Linked DNA regions of Homo sapiens. The protein of the gene in region 2 purifies or fractionates together with the protein of the main gene of each other region. This does not show direct contact. Each region holds a gene or a part of one and is shown on either strand. Other genes may lie near its edges.

Region 1 (3,270 bases), about 230 Mb from region 2:
GTGGATAGTGCAGGCTTCTGTCTCGTGGTTGGTAGTGCAGGCTTCCATCTCTTGCTTGAACTTTTCGTAGCATTCCTACGGTTTCTTTCTAATCTGTCTTCCCACTGCTGTCCAAGAGATCTTTCTAAGACACAAAATCTGACCTTGTCATTGCCTTCTTTATAAAATGTTCCTGGCCCACTGCTTTGGCAGTGATTCTTAACTGAGATTTCATATATCAGAATCATGGCCGGGCGCAGTGGCTCACACCTGTAATCCCAGCACTTTGGGAGGCTGAGGGAGGTGGATCACTTAAGGTCAGGAGTTCAAGACCAGCCTGGCCAACAGGTGAAACTTCATCTCTACTAAAAATACAGAAATTAGCTGGACATGGTGGTGCACGCCTGTAGTCCCAGCTACTCAGGAGGCTGAGGCAGGAGAATTGCTTGAACTCAGGAGGTGGAGCTTGCAGTGAGCTGAGATCACACCACTGCACTCCAGCCTGGGCAACACAGCGAGATTCCTTCTCCAAAAAAAAAAAAAAAAAAAAAGAATCACCTAGGAAGCTTTTTTCACTGACACATGCCCTCATCTTGCTTCTGGACGTTCTGATTCAGTAGGTCTGGAGTGGGGCCTGAAAGCATAGAGCAGTGGTTCCCAACTTTGGAAGAGAACCCAAAACAGATGACCAGAGACTCTGGTTCGGTTGGTCTGGAATGCAGCCTGGGCACTGGGGCTCTCTAAATCTGCCCAGTGATGCTAATGTGCTGCCAGGGTTGAGAATCACCACTGCGGAGGAAGGAAGAAGGTTCCAGATTTGAGTGGTTTTGGTACCCACCCCTGGAGCACAAATGGCCGAAAGTCCATCTTCAGAGATGTGAGGCCATCCTAGACCCTTCATGATCTAGTTCTGGATAGCACATAGGATTCATTTTTCATCCAACTTTGATTAATTGATAGTAGCCACCCAGAGACTATGCTGGGTCGGACAATGTGTGTAGCCTGAGAGAGGATTAGAACCCATTAGTGTGGGCGCCATAGCAGGAGATGGGACAGGTGTGGCATGTGTGTCTGACCTTGTCTGTACCTCTTGAATTGTATGTTCTGGAAAGGCTATGCTACTGCATCCCTTCTTCCCTTTAAATAATGGGTTCTCCTTTCTGGAATCCATCTACTTTTGGGGTTTTAAAACAACCATTAAAATGTGTTTGTGTGTGTGTATATATACAGTTCAGAACCATTGCCCTCTGCCCTGGTAGATTAATAACACCCTCCTCTGAGTTATGCCTGTATGTTTTAGTTCATGTCACATTGTTATTTAATCTGTTTATCTCTCTCTCCCCCCCTTTCCTCCTACTAAACTGTAAGCTCCAGCAAAGGCAGTAATTATGTCTCAGGGCCTCAATGGTATCTGACCCTTAGTTGATACTTCATAAAAATGTGTTGATCATGATTGAATTCTTTATCACCTCATTCCTAAATTTAGTGATTGTGAAAGATGCTAGGATAAGTCCTCAAGAATTTAGTTTTTTGAGTCGAATTTTTACATCTTTAAGTGGAACAATTATATACCTATACTCCAGGCCCATATTTCCATTACTTGCTGGCTATTTTTGTCTTGTCGCCTCAAATAGGTATCTAAAACCAGATTTCTATATTCTGCCCCCCGATAAAAACTATCTCCAGATCATCTTTATTTCCTCCCTATTTCTTACCACTCCCCTTCCCCCCAACATCACGCCAGTCTTCAAAACTGACAGCTTCAAAGAATTAGTTTTCGCTCCCTGCTTAAATGATGACGGGATATTCTGGCAGATAAAATAATGTTTTCATCTATTGACAATGTCTCACTTGAAATAGAATAGTCGGTTTTACTATGTTCCAGGAGGAAATGACGTATTTATGAAATGCGCCCTTTGCCTTCTCCTTCACAGATTGATGCTGCCTCATTCACGCTGACATTCTTTGGTCAAGGATACAGCCAAGGCACTGGTACAGATAAGAACAAACCAAATATCAAAATTTGTACTCAGGTGAAAGGACCAGGTATTTCACATATCACTTAAGAATGCTTGGGAATTTTATACTCTTAAGCTATAAAGTACAATGCCATTACAATATATTCTTTTTAAAGCTTAATTGTTTTAGAAATACATTTGTACAAATTAAGTAACTTAAAATTATTCTGTCAAAGGAAGATTGAAATTATTGATATAATCCAATTTTATTAGTGCATCCCTCCCTCTGGCTGTTTTTGGAGTATGATTCAGTAATTCAGAATGGCAAATTTTAATTAGTATTAATAGGAAAAGGGATTGGTTGATATTCACCTGTTTGAATCTCATATGCAAGTAGTGTAATTATAATGTCAGTCAAATCTGTGCTCTAGGATTTCTTTAGAGTCTCTGAACACCCTGACATTGTTTGTAAAATATGTATGCACACGTGCACTTTTCAAGGGAAGGGAATGGCTTCTGATAGGTTGTTAAAAGAATGTTGCCCAAAACGTTCAAGAACTTTTGCTGTACATTTTACAGAACTATGCAGAGACAGACAGGTCCACTTGTGAACTGTGGTATAATTACTGTCAGAGACAGACAGGTCCACTTGTGAACTGTGGTATAATTACTGTCAGAGACAGACAGGTCCACTTGTGAACTGTAGTATAATTACTGTCAGAGACAGACAGGTCCACTTGTGAACTGTGGTATAATTACTGTCAGAGACAGACAGGTCCACTTGTGAACTGTGGTATAATTACTGTCAGAGACAGACAGGTCCACTTGTGAACTGTGGTATAATTACTGTCAGAGACAGACAGGTCCACTTGTGAACTGTGGTATAATTACTGTCAGAGACAGACAGGTCCACTTGTGAACTGTGGTATAATTACTGTCAGAGACAGACAGGTCCACTTGTGAACTGTAGTATAATTACTGTCAGCCCTTTTAGGTCACAGGCTATAATTTTTTATTGAGACGGGGTCTCACTATGTTGCCTAGGCTGGGCTCAAGCAGTCCTCCTGCCTCAGCCTTCTAAAGGGTTGGGATTACAGGCATGAATTGCCATGCCTGGCCCACGGGGGATTTTAATCAAGCCAGATGATAGTATGTTTCCATCTTGCCCTTTTCTGAAATTCCCACCTGACTTTTTAAGGTAAGTTGACTGTATTTTCATTATTTGACAGGATTATAAATGCTAATGTTCCGTTTGTTTATAAACATTTTTTTAACTTATGTTTAGTCGTTATTCTTTAAGAAAAAATTGAGAGGATTTTTTTGTTGTTTTTAA
Region 2 (3,656 bases):
GGAGGAACTCTGTTGGAGGAGCTGGGTTAGGGCCTTTAGGCTTTGACAGTTCCTGGGTCTATGAGGAGCTCCGCAAGGGGATTCTGAGCAACCAGTCTGGAGCGTCCCCACCTGGGTTTCAGTCCTAGTTCCACACTATCTCACCCTGGCCTTGGGTTCAGCTTGTGCCTCTGGGCCTTGCTTTCTGCACCTGGGGATAATGACGGTGCCTACGTCATAGGTTGTTACGAGGATTGAATTAACTTCATGTAGAACAGTGCCTGGTACAAAGTAAGTCCCAGTGAAGGTGGTTCTGGAATTGGTAATATCATCCAGTCCCAGGGAACTGCTCCCACCCCTTCCTGCAGTTAAGGGCGGGGGTCCACTGAACCCTCCTTTGCCTTCTCCCCTCCCGCCCGCGTTTCCTATTCAGCTTCGGGCAGTACTCGTGTCAAAGTAGTGGTGTGGAAGCCCTTGGAACAACAGGGCTTGGCACATAGTAAACGCTAAATCAGTGGGAACTGTATTTATTGAGTTTTGTTTCAATGTAATAAAACAGCCCCACCTGCTGACTCGCTGTGTGTCTTTGGGTTAGATGTTTATTTAACCTCTCCGAGCCTCAGTTTCCACTTCTGTAAAATGGAATGATAACACCTACGTAGGAGAGATCTGTGTTGGTTTGGGTAGGCTGTCGGGCATCGCAATGCTTAGCACAATAAAAGTTTGTTTCTTGTGGGTGCAAAGAACAGCCTGAGAGTGGAGCTGGCTGCAGCCTGGCTCCTAAGGACTGGCTTTGCTACTGCATCTTGCAGCAACAACAGGAGCAGCAGTGCTTGCACAGCACTTTACAGTTTGCATGCAGGCAGGGTGGTGGTCCCTCCCACCTCTGTCTTCACGAAGTGCTGGGCTCATACCTTAACGTGGCACTTGTCACCACCACCTGATACTCTGGTTATATGTCAGCCTGGCTGTCCTCTCACACCACCTCCCCTAGGCTGGGAGCTCCCAGAGGGCAGGCAGGGATGGATGCCCCAATGCACCTTCCTTGCCCAGCTCAAGATAGTCCCTGGGTGGGTGTTGGGGTTGTGTCTGAGGGCTGGACTGGCACAGGGAACTCACCTTCTGACCACCTGTTCCTCTTGGCTTTTGCAGGTGGGAGGAGGAGCTCGCCAAGCGCATGAACCTTCAGACCATGGTGGACACGCTGCAGGAGGTAAGAGCCCTCCGATATCCCGACCAGGAGAGGCACGCCAGAGAGCCATGTGGCCAAGGGGCACAGTCTTCATGCGGCAAAGCCAGGAAATTCTTGCACAGCCCCTACTCTGTTACCTCCTACCACCTCAGTCTCTCCTTTATGGAGCCAAGAGATCCCTTCCACTTCCTCTGCTTGGAAGCTAGGAATGGACCAGCACAGTGTTGCACAAGAGCTCTGATGCAGGGGTTGAGAAGCCTGGGTCCAGGTCCCGGGGTGCAAGTCCCAGCTGCTGTATGACCTGGGACCAGCGACCCTTCTCACCCGTCACTGTCTCCCCACCTGAGGCTTGGACTAGGTGGTTTGTAAGCCCCCAAGCAAGAAGGGTGCCCTCGGTTGGGGCTGAAGGCCTTGGAGAGGGCAGGTGGGCACGTCGCAGGTGGGCTCCCAGCCTGAGCAGGCTCTCTGTGGTGGGCATTTGGGAACATTCCCCTTGCTGCTCTAGCTGGAATCTCTGCATTCTGGGCTCTGCAACTCCCCCACCTGCGGTGTAACCTGGGCAGCAAACTTCATCTTCTCAGCCTCTATTTTCCTCTCTGACAAGTGGGAGCAAGAGTAGCAACCCCATGAGAAGGCATGAAAAGTTCTTCCAAAAATGTCTAGAAATTGCGTTCTGATACTGAAAGCATTTGTCGTCTAAGACAGTTAGAGACAGATTAAGATAATTGTCAATGCGTAGAAGGAAAAGGTTGAATATCTCCCTTTCTTTTATAATGAAAGGGCTTTTTTCTTTATAAATTTAACGGGTTCATCGTCAAATATGTGGAAACTATAGAAAAGCCCAAAAATAAAAATTATTTCCAGTTCCTCCTTCCACAGTTGAAAAACTGGCGTGTGACCTTCCGATCTTGTCTGTGTGGACACACACCCACGCTCTTCAGACGCATGTTAGGTCGACACACATGACATTGTCATTTTTGAAAGCAGAGATGGCCCAATACTGGCAGTTTCACACGGATTGATCTCATATTTTTAACGTAATAGGATTGCTTGTTAATTAACCTGCTCTTTTAATACCTTCCATGGATTTTCCCACGTAATAGATAACGCTTTGAAAAGTGTTTTAAGCAGTCAACAGTGTTCAGTGGGAAGTCAGGCTGGGATGAGGTCCTTGGTGCCCCTTCCCTGGCTGCAGGTGCCCAGCTGGGGTGGACATCGGGTGCCTAGGGCTCTGGACTCAGGTGTCCAGACCCTCCTATCCCCAGAGGACCCGGCCCCTCTGAAGCCTCCCCATCTCCGTCCCCGCAGGCAGCACAGGAGGCTGATGCCATCCAGGAGGAGATGAATGAGAAGATCGAGCGGCTCAAGGCCGAGCTGGTGGTGTTTAAGGGGCTTATGAGTGACGTAAGTGCCGCCCGCCGCCCCTGGGTGTCATGACCTCCCCCACACCCATCATGCAAAATGCTTCATTCCCTCCGAGGCTCCGGGGCTCGGCTTCTAGTTAGAATCCTGGCTGGCTGTGTTTGACCATGAGGATGACGGATGCATTGGATGCATCGGAGACCAGGCACCCTCCTCCCGCCCCCTCCCCACTTCTGCTTCCCTCGGTCTGAGTAGAGATGCATTAATCTGCCGCTTAACCTATCCCGCCCTCCCCCGGGCTCCCCTGATGGTCTGTGTGTGTTTGCTCCCACTCCTTCCCAGCTCGCCTTGATGAGGGCAGGCCTCGGTGTCTGGGCGTAGCAGGGCGTCTGGCAGGTTGGGCCAGGTGCCGTCTGGTCTGTGCGGGCCTGAGAGACTCGCAGGCCCAGCGGCCTTTGGCAGGGTTGCTCCATGAGGTCAGGAAAGGCCAGTGCGCGTGTCTTTTTGACAATCTGGGGCCCCTCTAAGTATCTGTGGGTGGGGGGAGCTGTTGGCAGCAAAGGGCTCCTTGCTGCTGGGGACCCAGGTCTCCTCCCCTTCAAACAGTGGGCAGTACAGGGGGAGACCCCACCAGAAGGCAGAAGGGGCCAGAACGTGGGTGACTGAGCCTGGCATGGCTCCTGGTGTGGAGGGACGTGAAGCTGGGTGTGGTTGGTAGAAGCCTCCCAGGACCCTAGTTGGAGGCCACTGGGCTCCCTCTCACTTGTGTCCAAGGGGATCAACCCTGTGGTCCTCAGTGACTCCCACTGCCGGCCTTGGGAGGCATCCAGGAGAGAGAGCTGCCTGTGTGGGGGACAGGTGGGGTGTGCCGGTGGGAAAAGAAGGGCTGTCTTTCTCCAGCGGGAGTTGTCTTTTTTCTTCGCTCTAACAAAGTGAACACGGACCCTGTGTCTGCTGGGAGGATGCCTTCCAGCCCTTAGGGAGAGCAGCACACACGGCGTCACACTGGCCCCTGACTCCCAAGGCCCCAACCCCATCCCACCCTGACCAGTGCCGCCGCAGCCCTCCACTCCACGGAAAAGCCCAAGGCACCCTCGGACTCTGGAGGCCTCCCCGCACCACC
Region 3 (3,656 bases), on a different chromosome or scaffold from region 2:
TCCAGAACATTGGTCTGGGCAAAGATTTCTTAAGTAAGACCTCAAAAGCACAGATAGACAAAGCAAAAATGGACAAATGGGATCATGTCAAGCTAAAAAGCTTCTGCACAGAAAAGGAAGCAATCAACAAAATGAAGAGACAACCCACAGAATGGGAGAAAATATTTGCAAACTACCCATCTGAAAGGGGATTAACAATCAGAATATATAAGAAGTTCAAACAACTCAGTAGGAAAAAAACCCAAATGATCTAATTAAAAAATAGGCAAAAGATCAAAAAGAGACATTTCTCAAAACAAGTCATACAAATGGCCAGCAATTATACGAAAAAATGATCACTAATCATTACTAATCACCAGAGAAATGCGAACCAAAACCACAAGATACCATTTTACCTCAGTTAAAATGGTTTTATCAAAAAGACAGGCAATAACAAATGCTGGCAAGGATATGGAGAAAGGGGAACACTTGTATAGTGTTGGTGGGAAAGTAAATTAATACAGTCACTATGGAGAACACTTTGGAGGTTCCTCAAAAAACTAAAAATCTATCATATAATCTAGCAATGCTGCTGCGGAGCATATACCCAAAAGGAAGGAAATCAGTATGTTAAAGAGAAATCTGCATTCGCATGTTTACTGCAGCACTATCCACAATAGCCGAGATAGGGAATCAACCTAAGTGTTGATCAAGGGATGAATGGATAAAGAAAACAAGGTATATATACACAATGGGATATTATTTAGCCATAAAAAGAATGAAATTTTGTCATTTGTAGCAACATGGATGGAATTGGAGGTCATTATGTTAAATGAAATATGCCAGGAACAGTAAGACAAATATCACATGTTCTCACTCATATGTGGGAGGTAAAAATAAGTAGATTTCATGGAGGTAGAGAGTAGAATGATGGTTACCAGAGATTGAGAATGGTAGCGGGGAGGAGGGATAAAAAGTGAATGGTTATTGGGTATGAAAATATAGTTATTTAAAACTGCATTAGTTATATAGAAAAAATAAGACCTAGTGTTCGGTAGCACAATAGGGCAACTATAATTAACGGTAATGTATTATATATTTCAAAATACCTAAAAATGTGGAACGGGAATGTTCTTAACACAAAGAAATGATAAATGCTTGAGGTGATTGATAGCCCAATTACCCTGATCTGATCATTACGCATTGTATGCCTTGTATCAAAATATCACATACACCCCATAAATATGCACTATGTGTTCATAATAACTAAAGATAAAAAAATAAAAAATATATAAAAATAAGTTTGATTTATGGAGTACCATTTGGGTGAACTGAAGCTAGATGCTGTTGATTAAATCCCAAAGCCAGTGCTCTCCAACCCTCATTTCCACCCTCATTTCCAACCCCTCTTTCTTTCCCTCCTTACAAGATTGAAGTTCAGAATCACCAAACAAGACAAGGGCGCACACCCGTCCATACTACCACTTTCTTCAGGCCTGGATGTAGGATTGTTCAAGTTGTGAATAACATACTCAAAATGTTTTACTGAAGGAAGGGCATTTTTCATAAAGGCAGATGGGTTTGCAGTGGCCATTTGAACTAGACCTAGAATCTGAGGCAGCAGGGTACATAAAGATCAAACACTGCATTAAGATATGCCACTGCATAAGCTATTTGTTTTTATGTTGGGCCCTTTAGTAAGTTGCATTTACCTTTACTAGCTTATTATTTGGTTCCCTTAAGCAACGATTTGCTAACTCCCACTCCCAATGTTCTAAAATGATTTAACATAGGAGCTCAAAAATTTTCACTCACTCGTAGGCCATAATTAATATACTAGGGGAAATGGCCCAGTTGCTAAGTGAATAAAGGGCAAAAAGAGAACATTAGGTTTGGCAGAGCAGCATTAACTTATTCAAACTATACAGTTTCTTTCTACATCCATGTTTGCATATCTATTTCATAACCTCATTCCTCACTCAACATTTCTTAATGCCTAATAACTTGATACATTAACTGAGCAAGCCCTATATATAAAGTATAAATCATTTTAAAACTATACTGTGCCTTGGTTATAATACTTTGAGAAAATTTTTCTTCCCAATTGTTTTTCCATTTCATAAATGGTACTTTATGTGGGTCACTTGTACAAGAGAAATAAACTGCTTTTCATTTAATCAAAATTTTATATCATCATGACAAAGTCCCTCTCTAACACATTAACTAATATAAAGCATTGCTTTTGGGAAATTCCATTTTCCAGTTACTGCTGCAGAAGAAACAATTAGAAGCTCATAAGACACAAGTTATCTAGAAGTCTCATTTATAATTAATTAAATTAATAAGCCATTTGTTAAACTCCTACAACATTCAAGGTAAGAATTCAGGCACTGTGCTTGGTGTGGAAAGCTAAAAGGATTTAAATGCTGCCTGCAGAGTTTGCAGACTACTAGGAAAAGTCTGAGGCCAGTTAATGGGAGTAATAATTGGTCCTAGGTAAAAGGAGAAACTGATGAGATGGGAACTGATCCTAACTGCCAAAGGAAGAACTGAAAATAACAGTCTACACTATCCCATAAAGTAACCTTGGGCTCAAACAGTGGGGCACACCATCGAAGTCAGTTCAAGAATCAAACATACAGTGTTAAAAGCCTACTTAGAATCCTGTTCCAGTAATCTTTGGTCAAGCATCAAAGAAAGGCTATGTTCTGTAAAAATATACATGAGATGGCAACTTCATGGATATACTAGTGTCCAGATTCATTTGAAGAGCTTATATCATATACCTACTGAGAGGGTGTTAAAAGTCCAATTAACTCTCAAGATTAAATACTCCCAAGACTCAAGGAAAAGGGAACTAAGTTGTCTTAAGAGTCACAACAGCATGGTGTAAATGTTAAGAGGATGGGTCTGGAATCACATCTTTGCTCAAATCCCACCTCCATGACTTACTAGCTGTTGGTCAAGTTACATAACCTCTCTAAATCTCGGAGTACCCATCTGTAAAATGAGAATAACAGCACCTTCCTCATTGGAAGGGTTGCTGTGAGCATTAAATGAGACAATGTATTTAAAAGGCTTGCACAGTGTATAATACATATTAACCCCTGGTATATTTTAGCAGTTATTATCATTACTATTACATGCCAAACACGGTACTAGATGCTTTTACATATGGGTTAAATGCCCAATAATAACACCATGAAACAGGGAGTCTTATTACCATCTTTTAAAGTGAGGAAACTGAGGCACAGAATAGTTACATGACTTTTTCAATGTCACATCTTGTGATTGGTAGGTCAGGCAGTGTTACTCTAGAGCACAAGCTCTAAAACACCTTAGCACATGTCTATCAACCCTTTGCACATAGGCTATAATTATTTTTCTCCAGTTCATCACTTGTATTTTAACTTAACGGTGTTCCCCACTCTGCTTTCTTGTAATATAAAGTTTTAATTTTTATGCATTCAGATTTGTATTTTATGTTTTTGATTTTCTTGTCATGCTTAATTATGCCTACTTCAAACTATAACACTTGTCACTCCTCATGTTTGGTGTGTGCGTGTGTGTGTCTTGTTTTGTTTTGTTTTGAGACAGGGTCTCGCTCTGTCACCCAGGTTGGAGTGCAGTGGCATGATCTCGGCTCACTGCAGCCTCCGCCTCCAGGGTTTAAGTGA

What was found.
Region 1: the proteins of IFFO2 (region 2) and SCCPDH purify together in Homo sapiens (co-immunoprecipitation; one large-scale study listed by IntAct). This does not show direct contact.
Region 3: the proteins of IFFO2 (region 2) and IFT57 purify together in Homo sapiens (co-immunoprecipitation; one large-scale study listed by IntAct). This does not show direct contact.

The regions. Positions count from the first base shown.
Region 1 is NC_000001.11:246,762,333-246,765,602, forward strand, and holds part of SCCPDH (saccharopine dehydrogenase-like oxidoreductase), read left to right. Parts: intron 1-1,913; coding exon 1,914-2,025; intron 2,026-3,270.
Region 2 is NC_000001.11:18,918,597-18,922,252, reverse strand, and holds part of IFFO2 (intermediate filament family orphan 2), read left to right. Parts: intron 1-1,131; coding exon 1,132-1,192; intron 1,193-2,479; coding exon 2,480-2,575; intron 2,576-3,656.
Region 3 is NC_000003.12:108,194,891-108,198,546, forward strand, and holds part of IFT57 (intraflagellar transport protein 57 homolog), read right to left. Parts: intron 1-3,656. UniProt on the Homo sapiens protein: Required for the formation of cilia. Plays an indirect role in sonic hedgehog signaling, cilia being required for all activity of the hedgehog pathway.